Linked DNA regions of Homo sapiens: all the other regions are linked to region 3. The links come from fine-mapping of genetic effects on gene expression. A gene starts in region 3. Each other region holds a variant in brackets. All regions are shown on one strand. Distances are from middle to middle.

Region 1 (2,686 bases), 65 kb after region 3:
CTTTCCGGGTTCAAGTGATTTTCCTGCCTCAGCCTCCTGAGTAGCTGGGATTACAGGTGTCTGCCACCACGCCTGGCTAATTTTTGTATCTTTAGTAGAGACGGGGTTTCACCATGTTGGCCAGGCTAGTCTTGAACTCCTGACCTCAAGTGATCCTCCCACCTTGGCCTCCCAAAGGCGAGAGCCACCGCACCTGGCCTCATTCCTTTTTTATTCTGGGTAATTTTAACATATCATCTGACTGACAAGCTACTGCTAATAAAATATAAACTGAAAATAGATTTTTTTCTTCCTTGTCTAGACTATTTAATTTTGTTCTTCTTTGCTATTGTCTAGTTCTAGAAAAAGCGCTTAGTGTGAAATTTGTGGGAAAGATGCTGTTCAGAGTTTAATTTCATTATGTAGTTAACCAATGAAAATCCAGCGGAAAAAAAAGGTAAACATTTTTAGGAGATGGTAAAAACTATTTAAAAAATGGAAAGTTCATAGACATAATTTTTCTGAAATAGAACATTCAGTCAATAGAGTTGAAAACTGAATAAATGAATACATGATTGAATGGTTGATTCAAATGCATCATTAATTAATTGGAAATAATTGACTGTGTCACTTGGTCCTAAAAATATTCCTCTAAGAAATCATTAGCATTATCTGGAAAACTTTAAAAAGTGATACCCAAAGCCCAGTTTAATTGAATCAGAATCTCTGGAGGAAGGGCTTAGCCATTATTATTATTATTTTTTTTTTTTCTGAGATGGAGTTTCACTCTTGTTGCCCAGGCTTGAGTGCAATGGTGCGATCTCAGTTCACTGCAACCTCCACCTCCCAGGTTTAAGTGATTCTTCTGCCTCAGCCTCCCGAGTAGCTGGGGTTACAGGCGCATGCCACCGTACCTGGCTAATTTTTGTATTTGTTGTAGAGATGAGGTTTCACCATGTTGTTGCACAGGCTGGTCTCGAACTCCTGAGCTCAAGTGATCCGCCTGCCTCTGCCTCCCAAAGGGCAGAGATTACAGGCATGAGCCACTGCACATGGCCCTTTTAGACCTCTTTTAATCTTTGGGTTTCTTCAAAACCATTTGCTTCCCTTGCAATTTATTTTTGGGATAAACCAGTTGATACTGTAGGGCTTCCCACAGTTTAGATTTTGCTGATTATAACTTTATGGTGTTATTTAACATGTTCCTTTGTCCCCTCTATTCCGCATAGATTGTTCGTCTGGTAAGGATATAATAAACTTATTAAATGTTAGCCCATTGTGTCATTCCTCCTTAGTAGGGGTTAAGAATTATGCTGCCTTCAGGAAGGGGTCTGCATGTTGAGGTTGCCCAGGTCTGAGTGCAACTAGGATATACAATGGGAGTTGAGATCATCATTGTGGGGCAGGATAGTGTAGAAAATGGCAGGGAAGCTGCTCTTTGCCTCACCTCCTCACAGCCTCTGTTCTTGACATCTGCCTCTCTCTTAGAGTGGTGTGGAACATGTCTCTTCTCTGAACTCCCTCTCCTTTAGTCCTGTCACACTGAAGACATTGCTGGAGGCATTTCTGCCACCTGGGTGAATCAAAGAACCA[A/G]CTAATTTGTGAGGATGTGTAGAGGAGGCATTCCTAACTTTCCACTTATCTGTTAAGACCCAGTTGAAATCTTTCATCTTGGAGCGGGGGACAGTGATCCTGTTCCCCCGTGCCCACCCCCATCTGGAAGCACAGCTGATCACTTTCTCCTTGGTAGAACAGCATGCCTCACATATACCCCTGTTATGCATTTTGTTACATGTCATTTGAATTATGTATCTCTCTACGTAATTGTTTCAACTATAAGATGCACAAATTCCTTGAGGTTGAGAACCAGGTCTTCTTTATTTTTTTAACCCCAGGGCCATGCACAGGCCCTGGTTGTATCTGGCACGTTCCTGGCAGGAAGCAGATGATGCCTTCAAACTGGGTAATCAAGGGCAGTTTAACAATATTATAGGCCATGTGCATTGCTTACGCCTGTAATCCCGGCACTTTCGGAGGCTGAGGCAGGAGGATCACTTGAGCCCAGGAGTTCCAGGCTGCAGTGAGCTGTGATCATGCCACTGCACTCCAGCCTGGGTGACAGAGTGAGACCTTGTCTCAAAAAAAAGAAAAACAGAAAACCCCAAAGGTACTATTACAAAAGTGTAGGCAGGGTTCTGTGAAAGTAACAGGGAATGGTGTGGTATACCCAAGTTAATAACGGAATGGTGGAGGGGCAAATGGAGAGAATGGTCACCAAAACCCAGGGAAAAGCTTTTAGTAGAGGACACAGTCAATCCGTAGTGACCCAGCAAGGGAGGAATTGGAAATAGTGACCTCAACTTCGTTTTTCTCCATCCTTTGATCTCCTGCCCATGTTTTCTATTGGCTGAATCTAACCAGAATGCAGAGGGCAAGAGAGCCCATTGCTGCGGTCCATACAGGTCTGCCTCCCTGGTCTGAAGACAGCTAGATGGGGCAAATGGAAGTTATCCAGTATGGGATCCCCTCAAGCATTCACCCTTATCCTTTTGCCAGGTGAAATACTTATGTTCCCAGCAGAGGGCACCCACAAAATTCCTATTAACTGCTGTACCATTGCATGATGACTTCAATTCAGTCATAGTCTAACCTCGAGTCTAAAATGGTAGCCATTGCCAGTGCCCATCATTGAAGGTATGAAGGAGGG
Region 2 (2,686 bases), 47 kb before region 3:
CGGCACACACCTATAGTCCCAGCTACTTGGGAGACTAAGGTGGGAAGGTTGCTTGAGCCTGGGAGAACAAAGCTGCAATGAGCTGTGATAGCACCACTGCACTCCAGCCTGGGTGGCAGAGCCAAACCTTATCTCAAAAATAAAAATAAAAATAAAGAAAGACAGATCATGTCTTTGACTTGCTTGCTAAGAACTCTCATTGCACTGAAAATAAAACGCAATATCCTTCTACGGCTTTCAAGACTCTTCATGATCAATTTCTTGTACCACTGTTTCAACAGTTCACTAACTGCCTGTGATCCCAGCATTTTGGAAGGCCAAGGCAGGCAGATCACTTGAGCCCAGGAGTTTGAGACCAGCCTGGGCAACATGGTGAAACCCCACCTCTAAAAAAAAAATACAGGAATTAGTTGAGTGTGGTAGCACACACCTGTAGTCCCAGCTACTCAGGAGGCTAAGGTGGGAGGATGGCTTGAGCTTGGGAGGCAGAGATTGTAGTGAGCTGAGATCATGCCACTGCACTCCAGCCTGGGCGACAGAGTGAGACTCTGCCTCAAAAAAAAAAAAAAAAAAGAAACTTCCATCAGTAGTTCTTCCAGTGAGGTTTTGTGAGGGGTGACCTCTCTTGGTGTCTACGTCTAAAGATGTTTTTATTACACCTTATACCTTGGGTAGAATTCACAGGTAAGGAATTCTGGTTTGTGGTTATTTTCTCTCAGCAGTTTGAAGATACCATTTAGGTCACTGAAGGCATCTATTATTGCAGGTAAGTCTGCTGTAAGTTGAAGTATTATTGGTTTTTGTTTGTTCGTTTGTTTTGTTTTGAGATGGAGTTTCGCTCTTGTTGCCCAAGCTGGAGTGCAATGCTGTGATCTCGGCTCACTGCAACCGCCACCTCCTGGGTTCAAGCGATTCTCCTGCCTCAGCCTCCAGGGTAGCTGGGATTACAGGCATGCACCACCACACCCAGCTGATTTTGTATTTTTAGCAGAATCGGGGTTTCACCATGTTGGTCAAGCTGGTCTCGAACTCCTGACCTCAGGTGATCCACCTGCCTTGGGCTCCCAAAGTGCTGGGATTATAGGCGTGAGCCACCGCACCCGGCCCAGTATTATTGGTTTTTAGATTACTATCTTTCTAGCGGTGTGGAAGATTTTCTCTATGCTTTTGATGTTCTGCTATTGTACTCCGCTGCGTCTGTGTGGATTTACTTATAACTCTTTGGCTTAAGACTTGGTGTGCCCTCTCAATTTAAATGCTCATCTATTCTTT[G/A]TTTTTCTTTTTATTACCATGGCCATGTCCTACATTCAAAAGACTGCATGAAGTGTATATATGTAGATTTAAGGGTAATAAAATAAGCACATGTGTATTCACCAACCAGCTTAAGAAACAGACCTTTACCAGCATCTTAGAAGCCCATGTGTGTTCTCCCCTGAGCACAGCCCTGTCCTCCTCCAAGAGGTACCTGCATACTGAACTTTATATCAATCATTTTTTGCGTTTTTTGAAGAGTATTTCACAATTGTATGCATTTCTACACAACATGTTGTTTAATTTTGCTTTTTTTTTCTACTGTATACTCCTAGAATCATACATTGCTCTATATTTTTGTGACTTACTTTTTTCATTCAACATTATGACTTTGAGATACATCCATGTTGATACAAGCAACTGTAGTTTATTTATTTTTATATATTTACTTTTTTTAGACAGTGTCTCACTCTGTTGCACAGGCTGGCATTCAGTGATGCAGTCATAGCTTACTGCAGCCTCAAACTCCTGGACTCAAGCAATCCTCCCACCCCAGGCTAAGTAGCTGGGACTATCGGCACACACCACCATGCTTGGCATTTTTTTTTTTTTTTAATTTTTAGTAGAGATGTGGTCTTGCTATGTTGCCCAGGCTGGTTTCAAACTTCTAAGCTCAAACAATCCTCCTGCCTTGGCCTCCTAAAGTGCTGAGATTACAGGCATCAGCCACTGTGCCCAGCCTGTACTTAATTTATTTTTTGCTGTTGTATAGTACTCCATTATATAAATATACCAGAAAATTAATATTTGTGGAGTGAATGGATAAGTGAACACATCCATCATCATACAAAGCCCCATTTCTGACAACAGAATTTTGCTCTGGACATAAACATTTGCTCTCTTCCAGTCGTTGCCCCTAACACATCTTCTCCATCACATCCCAACACTGTTCTTCAGCTGAGGGCTGGCCCTGCCCCTCTCCACTGTACTAAATCCTGGGGTTTATTTCATTCTAAATCTAAGTTACCCTTCTTCGGGACATCTTCTGCGGTTAATCAATCAACCAGTCAATTACTTTTGGAGGCAAAAAAGACTTTAAAGGGCATGTAACTGGATGCCGATCTACTATGATGTCCTCTGGCAAGTGGACAGCCAGGTGTGTGAGCACATCTAGTGTGGAGGAACCCACTGCTTCATGAGAACACCCATTCCACTGGCCATTGTAACTTTCAAAGTTCTTCTTTCTCTTGAGCTGAAACTCATTCCCTGTAACTCTCACCCATGGATCGTTGTTCTGCATTCTGGAGAGACAAACAAGAAACCTAGCTCCCTTTCCCCATCCTCCCCACCAGTGCCTGCAAAGCATTTGCTGGTTCCCTTTGCCCCACTTATCACCCACCCTCTACACCCTCACCACAGGTTCTTCTTTTTTCAA
Region 3 (2,686 bases):
AGACCTGCTTAAGTAGTGATGGCCCACCAGGGTTGCAAAGTGAAGTTAAGTCAGGTGCTTAACAAGAGGAGGCTGCTTCTAACCATGCCTCCCCCTTAGAGAGTTTCTAACACCCCAACCACTGGCCCCACCTGTGGACAGCCCATTCCTCCCTCTAAACGCACAGGTCGGTTTAGATGCCTTGCTCAGACCCCTGCGCCCAGCATGGGCGCCCTACGTGCTGTGCCCACTGGGGTGGTCTCACGGGTGGGGGTGAGCTGTTTGCCCCTGGCGGTTCTTACCTGGACGCCCCCGGGAGTATCCTGGATCTGCAGGGAGAGCTGGTCCCCCTCGACATAGACCAGCCGTGAATACAGCTTGCCTGGAGAATGAAGTAGAGTTTGCTTTTTAATTCTCAAACTCCCATCCGTAAAAAGAAACACGCAAGCATAAAAGCAGGGAGCGTGAAAGTATTCTCACCTGTATTCGGTTCATAGTCTCCAATGAATCTCTTGGTCAGGAAGCGCACGATCATTGCTGAAAAGGAAATAGGAAAATCAACCGAAGGAGTAGAACAAGCCTGTCAAACCCAGGCACCTCGGACAAACTGGGGGGAGTGAAGGGTGCAGAACCGTGGGCACTGCTCGCTTCCAGAGGCTCCGCAAAGCCGTGGTGCCGCGGGCTTGGCCGCGAGTACGACTGGCGGGACACCTCTCCCGCACCCCATCCCCGAACAGGCGCCAATCCCGCCGAGATCCCAGGAGTAGATGCACCAGGAAACGCCAGGGAAGCAGGCCGGGACGGACCGGGACCCACCCAGCGCGAAAGCAGCCCGATTCTACCTGCACCCGCGCCCTCTGCTTCGGCCGAGGCGCCCTCTCTCCGCAGCGCCCCCAGTGGTCGCGGCCGGAGCCGGGGAGCGAAGCCGCCCGGGGGTCCCCGCCGCACTCACCGCTCTTGCCCACGCGGCCGGCGCCCAGCACCGCCAGTTTGATGTCCTTGGGCAGTAGGTAGTCCGAGGAGGACTCGGGGATGGGTGCGAGCAGAAAGTGCCCGGACATGCTGAGCGGCCGCATGGAGCGCGTCCCGGGGTCCGGCGCGCAATCCGAGAGGGCTGGGCCTCGCCGCACCCGGAGCCGGCTCGCCAGCTGGGAGTGCGGGACTAGAGGTCCGGGACCGCGGCGGCTGCCTGCAGAACTGTCAAGGCCCGCGGCTTTTAAAGGGCTTGGTGCGCCCGGGAGCGCGGCGGCCGTCCCAGCTCCTCCTCGTCTCCGCCCCTTCCCGGAGCGGCCGGGAGGGGCGGGAGCAGAGGCCGCGGAGCTGACTATCGCCGAGGCTGTGCGCTTCGCCGGGCTGCTAGCTGCTCGCGGCTCCAGGCGCTCTGCGGCAGGACTGCGGCTCCGGGGCTCAGACCCTGGAGATACGGCCACCGTCCAGAGCGCGCGAGTGGCCTCTAGTCAGGCATTCTGCGAGTCTCCTCGCCCCGCAGCAGCCAGCCGGAGTCACTAGACCTGTGGGTGAACTTGAGATAGGAGTTACGAGTTGACGAGAGAAGAAGAAAAAGTGCAATCAGTTGGATGTTTCTGCAACAATGGGACAGATTGCTGTAAAACGCTGCCCTTTTTATTTTTAAAAGGTGCTAAGGGGCTGGGCGCGGTGGCTTACGCCTGTAATCCCAGCACTTTGGGAGGCCCAGGTGGGCAAGATCATCTGCGGTCAGGAGTTCAAGACCAGCCTGGCCAACATGGCGAAACGCTGTCTCTACTAAAAATACAAAAATTAGCGGGGCGTGGTGGTGGGCGCCTGTAATCCCAACTACTCGGGAGGCTGAGGCAGCAGAATCGCTTGAACTAGGGAGGCGGAGGTTGCAGTGAGCCGAGATGGCACCACTGCACTCCAGCCTGGACCACAAGAGCGAAACTCCGTCTCAAAAAAAAAAAAAAAAGAAAGAAAAGAAAAGATGCTAAGGGGTAACATTAATATGGGAAAAGGGCGGGGGGCGGGGGGCAAGAGCTCTGAATTAGTATCAGTGGAGGCAACTGCAGTCACTGTGACCTTGCTAGGGATAGATGAAGTCCCCTTAGGGGCAGTGATGGTTAGCATCTCAGTATCCATGCCCAGCCCCTCCTCTGCAGGCAGGGGTTGCACTGGCTCATTCCTGAACACTCATGAGCACTCCACTGGCTGGGGGCCCTGGCCCTGCACTAAGTGTCCATCATTAATACTATCCTATGTGCTTGAGTCATGCATTTGCTTCAGTATCCAAATATTTACTTCTAGGTGCATGGTGGGGTCTAGGGTGGGGTGGGGGGCAGTGTGAGGAACAGGACACAGAGCTATAGACTGGTTCTTGGATTTCTGGAGCCCACCAGAAATAGCACAGCAGAAGCCTCAGGACTTTAACCTTGAACAGTTAGAAGACCTTCATGCCTCTGACCTCCTGTGTTCCAGCCTCACTTGCCTAATCGCCTATTAGACAGCCCCACCCTAATTCATACCTTTCTCTACCCTGGTTGTACCAGTTTTTGCTGCATGACAAGCCACACCAAACTAGATGGCTTAGAACAACAATCACTTACAGTTGTTGAGCCCTTTGATGCATCTGCAGGGAGCTTCCAGGTTCTGGAAGTGGGGGCTGGCTGCCCTTGGATAGCCTTACTCATGTCTGGCAGCTGTTGGCTGTGATGAGGGAGGGTAGTGACTGAGT
Region 4 (2,686 bases), 26 kb before region 3:
CCAAGGGAAGACCATTGGGTTGTGGGAGCAAAGGGAAAATTTTCCTTTGTTCTCTGAAGGTTTGCTGAAAAATCAACTGACAAAAGGTGATTAACAGGAAACAGGCATGTAAAATGTATTTACATGCATGTGTGCCCACAGGAGTCATACACAATATGAACTCAAAGAGGGCCGGATGGTTGAGGCCTAAGTACTCTCTTCATAGGGAAGAGACTTAAGGACCTGGGAGGTGGGAGGCAGGCATTAGGGAAGGTGAGGGATGGGGCTGCACAGGAACAAAAGGTGTCTTATGCAGACAAAATCTCCCAAGTCATCTCTTGGAGCTGGCCTCAAAGGAATAGATGAAAAATCTGTCTGGGTGTGTTGATAACACCCAGCCTCTTCTCTTTCAGTTTATTTTTCCTGGTTACTTGATGGGATCCCTAGGCAGGAGGTCTTAAAACAATTTCATATCCTTTGGAAAGAAGCTTTATTGGCCAGATAAGGAAATTTCAGAGAGCTCTTCTCTGCACTTGATGTAGGTAGGGGGAAGAGGACAAGGTAAGGTTACAGGGACCTTGATTCTTGGGCAGCTTCTAAGTCCTCTCCGCATATCAAAGTGCCAGACTTTGGGGTATTGCTTTCTGAACCCCAGTGGGGGCCTCACAGGGGTCGCTTTCTCCATGTGGGGCTTGGCAGGAAAAGGCTTAAATGGCTTGGGAGACAACAGAGCGTAGTTAGCCTCAGGTGGGGACCAAAATGTCGTGTTCACTACTGTACCTCCCCGTTGGCATAGCGTCAGACAGATGCTACAAATATTTGTTGAGTGGAAGGAAGAGAAAGAGGAAAGAAAGGAGAGAGAGATAGGGAGGATGGGAGGGAGGAAAGGAGAGAGAGAACAAGGAACAATCTTGATCAAATCCTAGCTGTTTACTAAATGTATGACCTTGAGCAAATAACTCAGCCTCCTTGTCCCTGGACCTCAATATCCTTATCCATAAAATGAGGCGCTCTCCCCAGGTCGTTGTGAGGATTGAATGAGACCATATATGTAAAATGCTTAGCAAAGGGCCTGATTCATAACAAGTGGCCCATAAGTGCTACTGTGATGACTATACTCTCCAGGGTCATACAGCCGGTGAGGAGCTGAGGCTACAAATATCCAAGGTCTTTCTCTCTGCTGTTGGAAGCTCCCCTGGCATACCCTGGGTTCTCACTGCCCTAAGAGCCCTTTCCCCTCTGGTGAGCACAAGTTCTGTACTGAAAACTGCCAGCCCCATTGTTTCCGTGAGCTTGAAAACCTCTTCGGAGCAGCAGGCTCTGATACATGCAAAGAAGGAGCAGACAGAACCATTAAGACACACTCAGCCTGAATCACTGTCCTCCTCAGCAGGGCTTTGC[G/A]GCAGCCTGAGGAGATACTGTTCTCAGCCACTGGACCAGATTGCTCAGGGAGCAGGAGGATGCAGGAAGCACAGGCCACCCGCTCCTGCTGTTACTGACCTAGTTTGGACCGCTTTGCTGGGAATGTGAAGCCAAACCAGATGGAGGGACACCAGGAACCGCTGATGCTAGCTGGAGGGATAGGAGCTCGGGCTCCAGGGAGCTCAGACTTCGGGGCATTCCAGGGCTTGATTTGGGGCACAGAGTGCTCACTTGGTGGGGGGGGATGGCAGTCGTCTTAGTCAGCCCGGCTGCTATAACAAAACACAACAGACCAGGCGGCTTACATAACAGTAGTTTCTTGCCATTCTGGTTACTGGGACATCCAAGCTCAAGGCTCTGGCAGATTCGATGTCTGGGGAGGGTCTTCCTCCTGTTTCCTGGATTATACCTCCTCACCGTGTCCTCACGGGGCAAAGAGAGGAAGCCAGCTCTCTGGTGTCCCTTCCTATAAGGACACCAATCCCGCTATGAGGGCCCCACCCTCAGGACCCCATCTAATTCTAATCACCTCTAAAGGCCCCACCTCCCAATACCATCACATTAGTGGGGAAGGTTTTGAATTATGAATTTTGGAAGGACACAATGGTTCTGTCCCTGTGGCAGGTAACAACCTTCCTGGCCTCCATGTGGTCTTGACCATCCTGACCACAGACAGAGGCCTCTCAGTGAGGGGCAGTTATGGCATAGTAGCAAAGAGAGCAGAGCCTGCAGCCAGACTGCCTGGGTGTGAAGGTTGAGTCTGCCTCTTGACAGCTGTGTAATCTTGGGCCAGCGATATAACTTCTCCACACCTCAGTCTCTGCATCTGTAAAGTGCAGGTGACAATAACAGGACTTAACGTCATAAGGGTGTTAGATGTGAATCCATGTACAGCATTTACATAGAAAGGTGCCTGGATCATCATCAGCACTGCATAAGTGGTTGCTGTCAAAATCTTACTATGTCACCAGATAAGCCAGTTTAATGCTGGTGACGGGACAACCAAGGGCACAGAGTTCTTAATGTTTGCCCAAGGCTTGGGAGAGCGTAGGAGTGGTGACTGAAAGAAGGCTCTCATCTCTGTGCTCCCTCATCCTTACTATGAGACCCTGCACGTGGCACCTCATCTTTCTGAGCCCCAGTTTCCTCCTGAAAATGAAAATAATAGCTTCACTCTGCCTAAATCGCAGGGTTCTTTGATGACTAAATGAGTTAGCATTCATGAAAAATGTTTGAACACTCCAGAATGCCAAGTGTGATGACCAGCCTGAGACTCCTTTTGCCT

Direction of the effects. Positions count from the first base shown, and alleles are read on the strand shown. Sizes are in standard deviations (SD) of each study's normalised expression. Not every link is listed here.
With allele G in place of A in region 4, the expression in cerebellum of the gene that starts at base 1,170 in region 3 is higher (large effect, 1.1 SD a copy in GTEx).

What was found.
Region 1: its variant is fine-mapped to the expression of RASL11A in whole blood (TOPMed, PIP above 0.99).
Region 2: its variant is fine-mapped to the expression of RASL11A in whole blood (INTERVAL, PIP above 0.99).
Region 4: its variant is fine-mapped to the expression of RASL11A in cerebellum (GTEx, PIP above 0.99). The same link has a PIP of 0.9 or more in cerebellar hemisphere.

Annotation. Positions count from the first base shown.
Region 1 is chr13:27,203,964-27,206,649 of GRCh38, reverse strand. No RefSeq gene overlaps it. Among named protein-coding and RNA genes, the nearest start is that of LINC00412, 32 kb to the left of the region's middle. The variant A/G (reference allele first, on the strand shown) is at 1,573.
Region 2 is chr13:27,316,569-27,319,254 of GRCh38, reverse strand. No RefSeq gene overlaps it. Among named protein-coding and RNA genes, the nearest start is that of RASL11A, 47 kb to the right of the region's middle. The variant G/A (reference allele first, on the strand shown) is at 1,273.
Region 3 is chr13:27,269,314-27,271,999 of GRCh38, reverse strand. RASL11A (RAS like family 11 member A) reads right to left here and starts at 1,170. Exons shown (of 4, transcript NM_206827.2): 1 at 932-1,170; 2 at 460-516; 3 at 282-361. The coding sequence starts at 1,055. RefSeq lists silencers at 770-999, 1,040-1,259 and an enhancer at 1,208-1,708.
Region 4 is chr13:27,295,455-27,298,140 of GRCh38, reverse strand. No RefSeq gene overlaps it. Among named protein-coding and RNA genes, the nearest start is that of RASL11A, 26 kb to the right of the region's middle. The variant G/A (reference allele first, on the strand shown) is at 1,381.